Linked DNA regions of Homo sapiens: region 2 is linked to region 1. The links come from fine-mapping of genetic effects on gene expression. A gene starts in region 1. The other region holds a variant in brackets. All regions are shown on one strand. Distances are between the middles of the regions.

The links.
Region 2: its variant is fine-mapped to the expression of TMEM260 in ileum (GTEx, PIP 0.96).

Annotation. Positions count from the first base shown.
Region 1 is chr14:56,578,236-56,581,155 of GRCh38, reverse strand. It overlaps TMEM260 (transmembrane protein 260), which reads right to left and starts at 1,358. Exons shown (of 16, transcript NM_017799.4): 1 at 1,082-1,358. The coding sequence starts at 1,241. RefSeq lists a silencer at 1,071-1,290.
Region 2 is chr14:56,750,918-56,753,837 of GRCh38, reverse strand. No RefSeq gene overlaps it. Among named protein-coding and RNA genes, the nearest start is that of OTX2, 58 kb to the left of the region's middle. The variant T/C (reference allele first, on the strand shown) is at 1,597.

The DNA of each region.
Region 1 (2,920 bases):
AGACAGAGAGGTGTCCTTCATCTTTTTCTTGACAGAAGTCAGTTAACTTATGGAGACCCACATAGCAAAGAACTAGATTGCGTTTCTCCCCAAATTGAGCCTTGAGAAGACCGCAGCCCCATCGCACACCATGACAGCAACCTTTTTCTGAGTACGAGCATCTAGCTTAAACGGCACCCAGACTCCTGATTTACAAAAACGGGAGACGATAAACGTTTGCTGTTTAAGCTGCTCAATTTGGGGATCACTAGTCATGCAGCAAAAACTGCTTCTTCAGTCCATAGGTTCACCACCTGAAATTACAGCACTATTCTGACAAAATTACTGGCCATGATATGGCATTATTGAATCCAAAAACAAAACATGGATCTTGTTTCTTGCATCAAATACAAAACAATTAGTGTGATTTAAGGGCCAATGAGTCATGCTTTTCTTTTTCATAGAAACAGCCGCACCTGGCTTCCACCTTTTTAAGAGTTCTCCTGCAAATATTCTGCATGGCTAGTTCCTTCTCAATATTCAGGTTTCAACTAAAACACCACCTCTTCAGAGGTCTTTCCTGAATAGTCATTCGGAAGGACCCACTACTTACCCCCACTCTCAATCATATTTCCCTCCTACTGTCTCCATAACTTATCACCAGTGAATATGCTGTTTATTCATTAACTTGTGTATTGTCTAACCGCACTGGAACACTAGCAATTATCTGTTCGCCACTACTGTTCTTTTGTTTGAAACATAATAAGGACACCGTGAATAATATCTGTGGACTAAAAAAGACTGAAAGTAAATACTCAGGACCAGGATAAAAGATCTGGGGAAGTGGAGAGGTCGATAAGCCCCACCAGGCGAAACCAACAATACGCCCCATCTCGAAAACCTGAGAACTAAAGAAACCACAACGACAGGAATGGAAACAGAAGTGGGCTCTGGAACACACAATAGTGCGCTGTGCACAGGGGGGTGGATGGAGGCCCAGAGCTGACCAGACCGAATGCCAAGAGCAGGGGCCAGACGCAGACCCTGCCCGTTCTGGGACCAGGGGAGAGGGACAGAAGGGGCAACCCTGCGAGTACTTTACCGGAGTCTCCCCCCGGTACCGAAGGGGGCAGGGTGAAGGTGAACACTGCGGCCACGGCGGCGAACACCGCCACGCCGCCGCGGATGCCCCCGGAGCGCCGCAGCCCCACTCGGACTGCCCGCCCCTGGGCCTGGCCCCTGCCGTCGCCATGGGGACTCATGGGCCAGTGGCGACCGAGGGAGAAGGACACGGCCAGCCCAAGAACCCGGTGCGACACGGAGCTCCCCAGCCGAGAGACGAGCGCAGCTTGTGCGGCGGCCACGGCGGCTTCCGGGTCGAGCCTCCGCGGGTTGGACCGCACCTTTCTCCGCCTGAGCGCGGGGAGGAGAAAATGCCAGGCCTCCCTTGAGCCAGGCCCTGCGAGTTTTCCCGCAGTGCACCACGCATTGGCGTTCACCTACTTATAATGTGATTTAAGGTTCCTAATCACCAGGAGAGCATTCCCTTTAAAAAGCAAGCCCGGCCACAGGCCTACCTTCTCCATGGCTATTCCCCCCTTTTATACTGACTTGGTTGGGTCTGACAGAGACCAAAGCAGCGTCGAAAACCGCGAGCGAGGAAGGGCTGCTCCTGCCCCCTACGGTGCGGGGTGGAACTGCACAAAAGGGCCACGATCAGCCAGGAGCCCCTACCTGTGCTAAAAAAAAAAAAAGGGTGGTGTATTTACCGTATGTGCAAAGTAAGCCAATAAATACATTAATCACAATTATGTATTTATTACGATTTACTACGTTACTATGACTAATTACAATAAGTCTGTGTGCTACTTATTAAATCACTGAGTAATTTTTAGAGAGATTAGAATATGCTAGTGCGTCTTTTTTTTTTTTTTTCATTCCATAGCATAATGAAAACTCTGTAGATGAGTCGGGAAATTTGAGTTCCTGTATTCATGCAGATAACTCAAACCATGATAAAGGTGTCTCCTAGTTTAATGAAGAGGAGTGTTTTGCTGGAGCTTTCAACACAGCAAAGTGGAAAATGAAATTGAATCACCATATTTTACAATGAGCTGTAACGCAAAAAAAAAGAATCGGAGCCGTTAATAAGGACAACTACATAACAGCGCAGTTAAGCTTTTTAAGCTTATGTTTTATTATTAAAGCAATTATCCTGGAGTGGGCGGGGAGGAGAGCAACCCGCATAAAATGTATCTCAAAGACACACTGAAAACCAGTGACAATCTCAAACGTGTTACGCGCAATTTGATAGAGACACAGTGACTAAACTATAGAGTAACATATACCTACCTTGACGGTCATGGGGCCAGCACACCTTAGTCTTTTCCAGGTACTTATACAATTTCCAGCCTTTTCCAGGTAATTTCTCAGCTGTACTGTGAGTTCCTGGAGGAGAGGGGCTGTGTGGTAGAGTGCTTCTAAAATGGATTCCCAGATAACCCTGCCTCCTCACTCACTTCCTGTATAAGCTGCTCGCCTTATGTGTGAGCTTAACCTAAGGATTGGCTTCTATCAATACAATAAGGCAAAAGTGATGGATGTCACTTTCAAGATTAGGTTATGAAAGACTAACTTTCATCTTGCTGGCACTCCCTCTTGTCCTCTCACTTGTTCTCTCTGATGAAGCCACCTACCATGGTGTAGGCTGCCCTGTGGAAAGGTCCACATGGGAAGAAACTGAGAGCCGCCTCTAGCCAACAGCTGGCAAGAAACTGAGACCTTCAGTCCAACAACCTTAGAGGAACTGAATCTAGGCAACACCATGTGAGGGAGCTAGGAAGTGGATCCTTCCCCCACATAAGCCTTGAGATAACTATAACTCCTGTCAAGACTTGGATTGCAGCCTGTGGATGACCCTGAAGCAGAGGACCTAACTAAG
Region 2 (2,920 bases), 170 kb before region 1:
GGGGAACTTTTTCTTTTTGTCCTGTTTTCATCCAGGTCTAATTTTTTGGGAAGCTTTCTTTTTGGTTCATTTTTCTTCAGTGATTATTTCACATTAAAATCCCATCTGATGAAAGGCATATGGAAAGGAAGGGAGGTCATTCCTAATTGAACAACCCAGGACTCGTGAGGTTAATTACAGATATTAACGCTGCTGTTCTTCAGCTTCTTGCCCTCAAGAAGCCTCTAGCTTCCAAATGACCTGGCTCCAACAAAGAGACTCTCTTTAGCCCATTAACTAATTGATAAAAATGTGAGTGTTTAGAATGAGTCTAATTAAATCACCGAGCCTTACAATTACTAGTCCATTTGGTAGCTGTTGGGAGATGGGTAACCTCAGCTGGCATTGTAGAGGAATAAAAGATAAAAATAAAAGGGAGCTTAACCAAGATCATTTTGAAAGCTGTTCATTTGAAGACAAAGTACATATTTGCCTGAAATGTCTACATTTACTACTTCAAATGCATTCCCTTTCTAGGGTAGCACAATCTCTGAAAAAGAAAATAACGTCTTTTTTCTTCTTCTTTAAGAGCAGGCATGCTCCACTTTGTCTAATAAAGTTACATGAGTGGCTGGGGAATTTTTTCTGCGTTAGCATTAAGCTAAATTCCTTTAGAGCTGGGAACACTGAAGTTTGTCCATTGAGCTTTTGCTTAAAGGCTGGCAAATGTCTCAAATAGTAGACATTAAAAAACCCAGAGTGGGCTCTCAGGACTTTTTACTTTGTCCCGAGTCTGTTCTAACTCACTGTTTCTGCTGCAGCCCCGATCCATGACCTACCTTCCTTTCTTCCTCTCTCTCTTTCTTTCTTTCTTTCTTTCTCTCTCTCTCTCTCTCTCTCTTTCTTTCTTTTGAGACAGAATCTCGGCGTGTCACCCAGGCTGGAGTGCAGTGGCACGATCTTGGCTCACTGCAAGCTCTGCCTCCTGTGTTCACCCCATTCTCCTGCCTCAGCCTCCCTAGTAGCTGGGACTACAGGTGCCCGCCACCACGCCAGGCTATTTTTTTTTTTTTTTGTATTTTTTAGTAAAGACAGGTTTCACCGTGTTAACCAGGATGGTCTCCATCTCCTGACCTCGTGATCCTCCCGCCTTGGCCTCCCAAAGTGCTGAGATTACAGGCACATGACGTTTCTTAAAGGCTGGAGCTTGTCTGGGCCCTGGGTGGAGGGATGAGAACCACTGACTCAACAGTGGCAGGTCCAGCAAAGCATGCACAATGAGTCAGCCACCAGCCCAGGTGGTGACTTTTGTCCCCAATTAAGAGACATTCGTAGGCTCCTAAATAGGGGATAACACAAGGATAATATGATACTTCTCACTGAAGTCTTAAAAGCAATGTATTAATCAAAGAGCCAAGGAATTTTAAAAGGGGGAAATTTAATTTGTAAAGATCTATTGAATACTTCTCTCCATTTATTCAAAAAAAAGTACTCTATAGTCAAAAAGCTAATTTATCCTGACTTATAAGCTAATCTGGCTGACATCAGTCCCTGTTGATATGGGTAATATTTTTGACGGGGGAGAAATTGCATGAGAATCCTCTGTTTTCTATAGTA[T/C]CTTTGTAGTAGGTGGTCATAAAAATAATACTGCGGCTTCTTGAATGAGTACACCTGTACTTAATCAGGTGTCAGTACCTTCACTATTAGCTCTGAGAGATAGTTATTTGTTACTGTTGGAAGCATTCAGATAGTGACTAAGCAACAGTTATTTTCAAACTTTTTGTGATATTGAAAGAATGAATATAAATATGAGCATATGTCAATCCTTCCTAGGCACATATTTATTGCCAGAGGCATTAATATTGATAAACAATGGGTCCATCCACTCTACATTAATATAAATCCAAGCAAAAAAGTGTTAAAATCACATTTCACTTTTTTGTCATTTACTCCTAGTCTCTAAGAGGAGGTGTTTTCTTTCTGATTATCCTGTCATTCAACTCATGCTAATTAGTGAGTGTAACAGAACTTTAGCAGACAGTTTGGTTGCAGGTGTATTCAGACCAAGGGAGATTTAATTACTTGCTAATTGCCTGGTGTCCAAGGTAACATAATATCATAGTTGCAAATGCTATGGTATTAATCCATCTTAAAGAAGTGCAACGTGGCTCAGCCTCCACATTCAGAGACTCCTGGAGGACGCTGTTGGCATTGCTACAAGTGCATTGAGGATGGGGGATTGTGTCTTTTGTATTCATGACTGAATACCCAGTGTCTGGCATAGGGCAAGACACATAGTAGACACTCAATAAATATTTATTGCTAAGTGAATGTGAATGAAAGTAAGCCAAATACAAGTACAGTATGAATTACCTGAGCACAGAAAGGGAAGCTATAACTCAGTAGGCTAAGAACAAAAGTGGAGGCAAAAAGGAAGCAAAGTAACATTTTCTGAGCAACTTCCGAAGGCCAAATACTATACATTTACCTAAATTGCCTCATTTAATCTTCTTAGAAGGGTAATGTAGGAATTAAGATCATGGACTTTGGATGAGAAATCTCTGTGTCCTAATCAAAATTCTACCTGTTGCTGGCTTAATGTCCTTCGCCACATCATCTGACTCTTAGAAGCCTCAGTTTTCTCTTCTATAAAATAGAGGGTGTGGGAATAATACTAAACTCAAGGAAGAGTTGTAAAAGTTAAATAAAATGTGTACAATGTCTAGCATACGGTAGGTGGTCAATAAAGCAGTTATTATTTTTAATTTTATAATGGTATTTAAAGTAGCATTATAAAAAACGTTACATAAACTATTGTGATTACCATTTTATTGAAGAGGCACTTGAGACTCAGAGAGGTTAAAGAATTTGCCCTGGCCGGGTGTGGTGGCTCACACCTGTAATCCCAGCACTTTGGGAGGCCGAGGCAGGCGGACCTGAG